Regions from separate parts of the Homo sapiens genome. Here regions 1, 2 and 3 are each linked to region 4. The links come from fine-mapping of genetic effects on gene expression. A gene starts in region 4. Each other region holds a variant in brackets. All regions are shown on one strand. Distances are between the middles of the regions.

What was found.
Region 1: its variant is fine-mapped to the expression of PSEN1 in whole blood (INTERVAL, PIP above 0.99).
Region 2: its variant is fine-mapped to the expression of PSEN1 in whole blood (TOPMed, PIP above 0.99).
Region 3: its variant is fine-mapped to the expression of PSEN1 in whole blood (TOPMed, PIP 0.91).

The regions. Positions count from the first base shown.
Region 1 is chr14:73,194,633-73,197,132 of GRCh38, forward strand. The region is part of intron 7 of PSEN1 (presenilin 1); the gene reads left to right. Among named protein-coding and RNA genes, the nearest start is that of PAPLN, 42 kb to the right of the region's middle. The variant C/T (reference allele first, on the strand shown) is at 1,289.
Region 2 is chr14:73,179,071-73,181,570 of GRCh38, forward strand. The region is part of intron 5 of PSEN1 (presenilin 1); the gene reads left to right. Among named protein-coding and RNA genes, the nearest start is that of PSEN1, 44 kb to the left of the region's middle. The variant G/A (reference allele first, on the strand shown) is at 1,455.
Region 3 is chr14:73,204,003-73,206,502 of GRCh38, forward strand. PSEN1 (presenilin 1) reads left to right here. Exons shown (of 12, transcript NM_000021.4): 9 at 2,384-2,470. Among named protein-coding and RNA genes, the nearest start is that of PAPLN, 32 kb to the right of the region's middle. The variant T/A (reference allele first, on the strand shown) is at 1,133.
Region 4 is chr14:73,135,425-73,138,188 of GRCh38, forward strand. PSEN1 (presenilin 1) reads left to right here and starts at 1,083. Exons shown (of 12, transcript NM_000021.4): 1 at 1,083-1,159. RefSeq lists silencers at 863-942, 1,203-1,262 and an enhancer at 1,433-1,542.

The DNA of each region.
Region 1 (2,500 bases), 59 kb after region 4:
ATCTTGGCTCACTGCAAGCTTCGCCTCCCAGGTTCATGCCGTTCTCCTGCCTCAGCCTCCCAAGTAGCTGGGACTACAGGCATCTGCCACCACGCCCGGCTATTTTTTTGTATTTGTAGTAGAGACGGGGTTTCACCATGTTAGCCAGGATGATCTCGATCTCCTGACCTCATGATTCACCTGCCTCGGCCTCCCAAAGTGTTGGGATTACAGGCATGAGCCACCGTGCCCGGCCTGGCCATACACTTTTGTCATTATTTACATACTTACTAAAATGTTTGGTGGCCTGTAATAGGAAACATCATCCTCATTTGATTGACGAAGAAGTCTGTGGAAATAGGATTGAACTGGTTCTGTTCTTGTATTTGAGTAATCAGTTGTGGAACTATAGAAGTCATATACTCTCTCTGACTTTCATAATTACCTTATGTTGTATAGTACTTGATGGTTTGCAAAGTAACCATCTATTCTTGCTTAGCTGTGAGTAAGAATGCCAGGTCTGGAGACAGAATGTCTGGGTTCAAATTCTACTCATCACTTTTTATTTTTATTTTTTTTGAGATAGAGTCTCGCTTTGTTGCCCAGGCTGGAGTGCAGTGGCGTGATCTCAGCTCACTACAACCTCTCCCTCCCGGGATCAAGCGATTCTCCTGCCTCAGCCTTCCGAGTAGCTGGGACTACAAGTGCGCACCACCACGCCCAGCTAATTTTTGTATTTTTAGTAGAGACGAGGTTTTGCCATGTTGGCCAGGCTGGTCTCAAACTCCTGACCTCAAGTGATCTGCCTGCCTCAGCCTCCCAGAGTGCTGGGATTACAGGCTTGAACCACTGCGCCCAGCCTACTCATCACTTACTAGCTATTTGACCACACAAGTTACTCAACTCCTATGTCAGTTATGAAGATTAAATTAAATGATCCATTTAATACAATAATACACTTAGAACAATGTCTATCAGTAAATTTTTTTCTGTTTTAAGAAACAGGATCTCACTCTGTCTCCCAGGCTGGAGTGAAGTGGCACGATTATAGCTCACTGTAGCTTCAAAAGCCTGGGCTCAAGCAGTCCTCCTGTCTCAGCCTCCCGAGTAGATAAGACTACAGGCACAGGTTGGTGTTGACCTCCTAGCTTCAAGCAGCCTCCCAAAGTGCTGAGATTACAGGTGTGAGCCACTATACCCAGCCCAGTGTTATATTTTTGTATAATCCTATGAAGTATCAAGGCAGTTATTATCCCTGTTTTACTGCTAAGAAACTTGAAGTTTACAGAGGTAAATTATTTGCCTAAGC[C/T]TAAACTCTGATCTCGAATCTGAATCCCAAGTCCAATATTCTTTTCACCGTATTACAATATTTTTACCATCAACCCTCCATTCTGTCTGCACATCATACAAATGAGTATCTCTACAGAGCTTTGAGTTGCTTTTAAACAAAAGAGATTTTTGTACCCAATGTTTAGAGTAGTGATTCTCGGCTCCATTTTTACAAGATTTCAAGATTTAATTTGTCAAAAAAGTTCTGAAATTTTCAAAGCAAAAGCAATTTTAATTTAATTGCTCTAAAAAATAAGCAGATTTATCATTTAGCAATTCTTTAAGGGAGAGTGTATCATAAAACTGAAATAGTACTGAATGTGGCAGAATCAAACAAGTTGAAAATCTCATCACTTCAGAGCAGGGCAGACTTCTCATTCAAACAAATTGAGGTAGAAGTGGTGAGAGTAGAGATTTCTTTGTGTATGTGTGTTTTATTACTGTACTATATTATATTATAGTTCTATATATACTATATTATATTGTACATATATATTATTATATGAAGAGACATGACCACTTTGAGGCATGAAATTTTTTTTTTTTTTTTTTTTTTTTTGAGGCACGGTCTTACTTTGTCACCTAGGCAGTGGCGCCATCTTGGCTCACTGCAGCCTCCACCTCCAGGGCTCAAGCAATCCTCCCACCTCAGCTTCCTGAGTAGCTGGGACTATAGGCACCTGCCACCATGAGCTGCTAATTTTTTGTATTTTTGGTAGAGACGGGGTTTTGCCATCTTGGCCAGGCTGGTCTCAAACTCCTGAGCACAAGTGATCTGCTGCCTCAGCCTCCCCAAAGTGCTGGAATTACAAGCATAAGCCACTGTGCCTGGCAAGACATGAAATTTTTAAATGTAAATGCATTTAAGTGACAATAATGTGAATACAAGTTATCAATTCTTCCTTTACAAGTTTAGCTATACCTGTTTTATATTTTTCAGTGTTTAAAATTATTTTTATATTTTTATATTCTGAATTTTCTTTCTTTCTTTCTTTTTTTTTTTTTTTTTTGAGACGGAGTCTCGCTGTATTGCCCAGGCTGGAGTGCAGTGGCGCAATCTCGGCGCACTGCAAGCTCCGCTTCCCGGGTTCACGCCGTTCTCCTGCCTCAGCCTCCCGAGTAGCTGGGACTACAGGCACGCGCCACCACACCCAGCTAATTTTTTGTATTTTTTAGTAGAGACAGGGTTTCA
Region 2 (2,500 bases), 44 kb after region 4:
GATCTCCATGTGGTTTCTTGGGCTTCCCTTTTCCATTCCTGCAGCCAAAAGTGGACTTTATCTTCCTAAAGTCAGGGCCAAAATGTGGGAGGAGAGAGAGAAATAAAGCAAGGGCTATTTGCCCCACTCTCTCGGGACTGACATTCTTCCAGTCAGAGTAAGGATTCCCTCCCTCTGAATTTTAGGCTTCTGCCACCCACATTACCATCACCACAGGATTGTGTGAGGACTGGGCATACGAGAATGGAGAAAAGCGGAAAAGAATGCCGGGTGTGGTGGCTCACGCCTGTAATCCTAACACTTTGGGAGGCCAAGGCGGGCAGATTGCCTGAGCTCATGAGTTTATGACCAGCCTGGGCAACACAGTGAAAACCTGTCTCTACTAAAATACAAAAAATTAGCCAGGCATGGTGGTGGGCACCTGTAGTTCCAGTTACTCAGGAGGCTGAGGCAGGAGTATTGCTTGAACCCGGGAGGCAGAGGTTGCAGTGAGCCAAGATCGTGCCACTGCACTCCAGCCTGAGCTACAGTGCGAGACTCTGTCTCCAAAAAAAAGGAAGAAAAACTGGATTTTTACACTGTCTGGGTGTTAGGAGACCTCTTTCCTGATCCTCAAGCCAGAACTAGAGGTCTTCTGGAGCTCCCATTGTCTTGCTAATGCCCACTCATGTTGTAATGAGCACAGGTGGAGGAAAAAAAGTGGTCAGCTCACTGCTAGTACTTCTAATTCCCCAGCCCACCTACCTCTCATTACTTTTCATCTTTTGCAACCAGCTGCTGCCTGCTTTCTGCCCAGGTTTTGTAACTGTATTCAGTGGGATAGAGAGAGTGGAAGGTACTTACTCCATCTTATCTGGAACCTTTCTTAATATATTTTTTGTCGCATTTGTACATCTTTTATCCATCCTTCATTTTATTTTATTTTTTTTTTTGAGACGGAGTCTCAGTCTCTCGCCCAGGCTGGAGTGTAGTGGCATGATCTTGGCTCACTGCAACCTCCGCCTCCTGGGTTCAAGTGATTCTCCTGCCTCAGCCTCCCAAGTAGTTGGGATTACTGGGACACGCCACCATGCCTGGGTAATTTTTGCATTTTTAGTAGAGATGAGGGTTCCCCATGTTGCCCAGGCTGGTCTCGAACTTCTGACCTCAGGTGATCCACTGGTTTCGGCCTCCCAAAGTGCTGGGACTACAGGCCTGAGCCACCACGCCCAGCCTTATCCTTCATTTTAGACAGTTTAAGAGGTTTGTATTCAGCCAGATCTCCACATTTACTTGTTCATTTGTGTTGTGATGTTTTTTAATGTTCAAGTCTTAGCACACACAAACAATTATATAGAAACAAGTTGTTTACTTTGACACCCAGTATAACTAAAAGGATCTTTTGAGTCAGAGATTGAGTAACTTGCCAGAGCCTGTTTGGAAATAAACCCTGAGGATTTTTCATATCAGTGGTT[G/A]GTTATGCAATGTCTGTGGCAAGCCCTAGAAACTAAAAGACCAAACCTTAAAATGTTAAAAACAGGAAAGGCAGTTAATTATTATACATAATTTGTTATAAAAGGAACTATAACTTATTAAAGTCAGATGATTTCTGGCCTTGATAGTTTAGGGTTTAGAGAAGATACTGTTGTGTACTATAAAACAGCAGGGCTGTTTTCTTTCATACCCTTTAGCACAGGAAAGCTGAACTAGGGATTTTTGCAAGATGAGAAAGGCCTGTTGAAATGTGTGTGTATAACATAGTAATAAAAGAAATGCATATGAAAATAACAAATTAACATATTTGACATATTGACTTTGTCAAGATTAGTCTTTTTTGTCAAGTAACTAAGCCAGTGTGTATTAATTAAATCAGTAATTAGAAAAAGTTTGTACACTTTGATTTAGTAATTTTGCTTTTATGATATATTCTAAAGAAGGAATTAGAAATGCAGAAAAATATTTGTGAAGTAGGATGTTCATTTTAATGTAAATTAAAATTGGGGAAAGAAAGGGAAAACAATACAGATTCCATGCATAAGGCAAAGGTTCAATTGTGGGTTTATCCGTATGAGTAGACTATTATTTTGTCATTTAAAAATCATAGTTTCAGCTGGGCGTGGTGGCTCACGCATGTAATCCCAGCACTTTAGGAGGCTGAGGTGGGCGGATCACCTGAGGTCAGAAGATCGAGACCAGCCTGACCAACATGGAGAAATCCTGTCTCTACTAAAAATACAAAAAAATTAGCTGGGCGTGGTGGCGAGTGCCTGTAATCCCAGCTACTCAGGAGGCTGAGGCAGGAGAATCGCTTGAATCTGGGGAGTGGAGGTTGCGGTGAGATTGCGCCATTGCCCTCCAGCCTGGGCAACAAGAGCAAAACTCCATCTCAAAATCAATCAATCAATCAGTCAATCAATCATAGTTTCACGCCAGGTGCAGTGGCACGGACCTGTAGACCCAGTTACTTGGGACCCTGAGACGAGATGATTGCTTGAGCCCAGGTTTTCCAGTCTAGCCTGGG
Region 3 (2,500 bases), 68 kb after region 4:
ATTTTATTTTTTTGAGACAGAGTTTCGCTCTCATTGCCCAGGCTGGAGTGCAATGGCACGATCTCGGCTCACCACAGCCTCCGCCTCCTGGATTCAAGCAATTCTCCTGCCTCAGCCTCCCGAGTCGCCGGGATTATAGACATGCACCACCACACCGGGCTAATTTTGTATTTTTAGTAGAGACAGGGTTTCTCCATGTTGGTCAGGCTGGTCTTGAACTCCTGACCTCAGGTGATCCACCCACCTCCGACTCCCAAAGTGCTGGGATTACAGGTGTGAGCCACCATGCCTGGCCTTTTTTTTTTTTTTTAATTTAAACGAAATCTGCTTATTTTCCTGTTGATGTAAGGTGTTTGTGTTAAGGTGAAATGAAAAGTGATTTTTAAAAAAATATTATTTTAGGACTATTTAACAAATATACTATTTATGATAATTAACATGGGGTTAGCAAACTACTGCTTGAAGCCAAATATGGCCCATGGCTTGTTTTTGTACAGCTTATAAGCTAAAAATGCTTTTTACATTTAAAAAAAAAAAAAAAGAACAAGGAAGAATATGTGACACACAAAACCTGAAATGTTTACTCCCTGGCCATTTACAGAAAAAGTTAGCTGGACATTGATTTTCATGTTACTATTAACTGCTAAAACAAAGGAGCTTGTAGCTATATTTTTTCATACTTGCATAAAGAAAGAAAACCTAATAAATCGCTGGTGGCTTCATTTCCAAAAGGCTATGGAAATCCATAAACAGGCTGGGTGCAGTGGCTCATGCCTGTAATCCTAGCACTTTGGGAGGCTGAGGCGGGAGGATTGCTTGAGCCCAGGAGTTTGAGTCTGGCCTGGGCAACGTAGTGAGACCCTGTTTTTAGAAAAAATGAAGATAAAAAACTAATCCATAAACCTCATACTTGGTGGTTGCCCTTCAGTTTTTCTTCTTTAGATCTGGATTTAGTTAAACAGTGTATTGCCTGCCTGGTTTCTGTTAACTTTTGATCATTTGGTTGGGTTATCCTATAATGAAACTTGGTTGACCTCAGAAATAACAAGGTGGTCGTTCAGCTTCTTTGATTGTGTGTTTCTTTCATAAGTTCTTCAAGAAGCCTGAGTATTAGAAACATGGATAAAATTAT[T/A]GTGATAAAAAGCCAGAGAGACATAAATGTCAAGTATCTTGTTTAAAATTACTGTGACCAGGCCGGGCGTGGTGGCTCACGCCTGTAATCCCAGCACTTTGGGAGGCTGAGGCGGGCGGATCACGAGGTCAGGAGATCGAGACCATCCTGGCTAACACAGTGAAACCCCACCTCTACTAAAAAAAATACAAAAAATTAGCCAGGCATGGTGGCGGGCGCCTGTAGTCCCAGCTACTCGGGAGGCTGAGGCAGGAGAATGGCGTGAACCCAGGAGACGGAGCTTGCAGTGAGCCGAGATCATGCCACTGTACTCCAGCCTGGGTGACAGAGCAAGACTCTGTCTCAAAAAAAAAAAAAAAAAAAAAAATTACTGTGACCAGATTGGACTCAGCTTGCTGCTGGCATTTGGTTCCCACCATAACCTCATATGTCATGTGTTTGCTTATATGTACTTTTGTGTTATTGTTGGTGTATCTTCAGGATAAGTTCCAAAATGTAATATTGCTGGGTTAAAGGATTAATGCACATGTAGTTTTATTAGATGTTACCAAATTTCCCTCCAGTGGGGATTATACCATTTTTCATTCCTGCCTGAAATATATGAGAGAAGCACCATTTTAAAGTTTTCACAATGTCTCTGAACTAAAATGTGGTAGAGATGCACATGTGTATATCTAGATCTAGATTGATATATTGATATACATGTATTTTTGTAGAAGGGGCACAGAGGAGGCCTCTTGACTATCCCTATTATGTTTATTGCTTTTAACGTTTTTTCTCACGCCGGGTTTAAAACATGGTTTAGCATTATTGAACATTCTAAAAATGAGACATAATATGAAGGAAATTTACTCTGTGCATCTTTTGAATTATAATCACCATCTGAGGCTTTTGTGAGCTCCAGTTTGTCCTGGAATTTAGAACATTCAACTAGTCCAGCTATTGTTTCAGTGGAATCTTGCTGGCCTGAACAGTTTTCCTTCTGGTTCCTTTTCAGGGACTAAAAATGATGAAGAGTTTTGTGATAGCAGGTGCAGTTTGAGTACTACAGTAAACATTCAGTTTCAGAACTTCTTCTCTTACCTGCTAAAACCAAAGAGAACCTTTTTTTTATTTTTACTTCTGATTGTTGAACAGTCTTAAGGCAGCATTAGGAAGACTGGCGATTTGTGTGGAGAAATGATGGCTTGTTGTTGTCTATGCATACTTTGTGTGTCCAGTGCTTACCTGGAATTTTGTCTTTCCCAACAGCAACAATGGTGTGGTTGGTGAATATGGCAGAAGGAGACCCGGAAGCTCAAAGGAGAGTATCCAAAAATTCCAAGTATAATGCAGAAAGTAGGTAACTTTTATTAGATAATATCTTGA
Region 4 (2,764 bases):
CCCAGGCTGGAGTGCAGTGGTGTGATCTCAGCTCACGGGTTCAAGCGATTCTCCTGCTGCAGCCTCCCGAGTAGCTGGGATTACAGGAGCGCGCCACCACACCCGGCTAATTTTTTTGTATTTTTAGTAGAGACGGGGTTTCACCATGTTGGTTAGGCTGGTCTAGAACTCCCAACCTCATGATCCGCCTGCTTCGGCCTCCCAAAGTGCCGGAATTACAGGCGTGAGCGACTGCACCCGGCCGCTTGGGGGTGGATTTTTAAAGAAACTTTAGAAGAATGTAACTTGCCCAGATACCATGTACCGTTAATTTCATTTTCGGTTTTTTGAATACCCATGTTTGACATTTCTCCGTTCACCTTGATTAAATAAGGTAGTATTCATTTTTTAGTTTTAGCTTTTGGATATATGTGTAAGTGTGGTATGCTGTCTAATGAATTAGACATTGGTACTGTCTTTACCAAAACTGGACAAAGAGCAGGCAGATGCAAAAATCAAGTGACCCAGCAAACCAGACACATTTTCTGCTCTCAGCTAGCTTGCCACCTAGAAAGACTGGTTGTCAAAGTTGGAGTCCAAGAATCGCGGAGGATGTTTAAAATGCAGTTTCTCAGGTTCTCGCCACCCACCAGAAGTTTTGATTCATTGAGTGGTGGGAGAGGGCAGAGATATTTGCGATTTTAACAGCATTCTCTTGATTGTGATGCAGCTGGTTCGCAAATAGGTACCCTAAAGAAATGACAGGTGTTAAATTTAGGATGGCCATCGCTTGTATGCCGGGAGAAGCACACGCTGGGCCCAATTTATATAGGGGCTTTCGTCCTCAGCTCGAGCAGCCTCAGAACCCCGACAACCCACGCCAGCGCTCTGGGCGGATTCCGTCAGGTGGGGAAGGCCAGGTGGAGCTCTGGGTTCTCCCCGCAATCGTTTCTCCAGGCCGGAGGCCCCGCCCCCTTCCTCCTGGCTCCTCCCCTCCTCCGTGGGCCGGCCGCCAACGACGCCAGAGCCGGAAATGACGACAACGGTGAGGGTTCTCGGGCGGGGCCTGGGACAGGCAGCTCCGGGGTCCGCGGTTTCACATCGGAAACAAAACAGCGGCTGGTCTGGAAGGAACCTGAGCTACGAGCCGCGGCGGCAGCGGGGCGGCGGGGAAGCGTATGTGCGTGATGGGGAGTCCGGGCAAGCCAGGAAGGCACCGCGGACATGGGCGGCCGCGGGCAGGGCCCGGCCCTTTGTGGCCGCCCGGGCCGCGAAGCCGGTGTCCTAAAAGATGAGGGGCGGGGCGCGGCCGGTTGGGGCTGGGGAACCCCGTGTGGGAAACCAGGAGGGGCGGCCCGTTTCTCGGGCTTCGGGCGCGGCCGGGTGGAGAGAGATTCCGGGGAGCCTTGGTCCGGAAATGCTGTTTGCTCGAAGACGTCTCAGGGCGCAGGTGCCTTGGGCCGGGATTAGTAGCCGTCTGAACTGGAGTGGAGTAGGAGAAAGAGGAAGCGTCTTGGGCTGGGTCTGCTTGAGCAACTGGTGAAACTCCGCGCCTCACGCCCCGGGTGTGTCCTTGTCCAGGGGCGACGAGCATTCTGGGCGAAGTCCGCACGCCTCTTGTTCGAGGCGGAAGACGGGGTCTGATGCTTTCTCCTTGGTCGGGACTGTCTCGAGGCATGCATGTCCAGTGACTCTTGTGTTTGCTGCTGCTTCCCTCTCAGATTCTTCTCACCGTTGTGGTCAGCTCTGCTTTAGGCATATTAATCCATAGTGGAGGCTGGGATGGGTGAGAGAATTGAGGTGACTTTTCCATAATTCAGGTGAGATGTGATTAGAGTTCGATCTGCGGTGGTGGCAGAGGCTTACAAGAAACACTAACGGGACATGGGAACCAATTGAGGATCAGGGAATAAAGTGTGAAGTTGACTAGGAGGTTTTCAGTTTAGAACATGGCAGAGACATTCTCAGAAATAAGGAAGTTAGGAAGAAAGACCTGGTTTAGAGAGGAGGGCGAGGAAGTGGTTTGGAAGTGTCACTTTGGAAGTGCCAGCAGGTGAAAATGCCCTGTGAACAGGACTGGAGCTGAAAACAGGAATCAATTCCATAGATTTCCAGTTGATGTTGGAGCAGTGGAGAAGTCTAAGCTAAGGAAGGGGAAGAGGAGGCCAAGGCAAACACTTAGGAACACTTGCAACGAGGGGGTGGAAGAAGAGCAAGGAGCCAGCTGAGGAGAATGAGTGTGGTTGGAGAACCACCACAGCGCAGGGTCGCCAGAGCTGAGGAAGGGGAGGGAAGCTTCAGGAAGGAAAAGGTTGGCAGGGATTTTGAGTGTTAGGCCTGGTGTAGCAGAAGGAACAGAAGATTTAGAGCAGCGCTAGCCAATAGAAATAAAATGTGAGGCCCGGGGCGGTGGCTCACGCCTGTAATCCCAGCACTTTGGGAGGCCGCGGGGCGGATCCTTGAGCTGAGGAGTTCGAGACCAGACAACACGGCGAAACCCCGGCTCTACAAAAAATTAGCTGGGCGTGGGGGCGCGCGCCTGTAGTCCCAGCTGCTCCCAAGCGAGGCTGAGGCAGGAGAATCACTTGAACCCGGGAGAAGGAGGTTGCAGTAAGCCAAGATTATGCCACTGCACTGCAGCCTGGGCAAAAGAGTGAGACTGTCTCAAAAAAAAAAAAAACCTGTTTTGTTTTTCTTTTGGAGAAAAGGCATACAAATTTATTAGCATGCAGACTGGGAGAACCACAAGGTGATTATCCCTATTTTAAATTTTCTAATAAACATA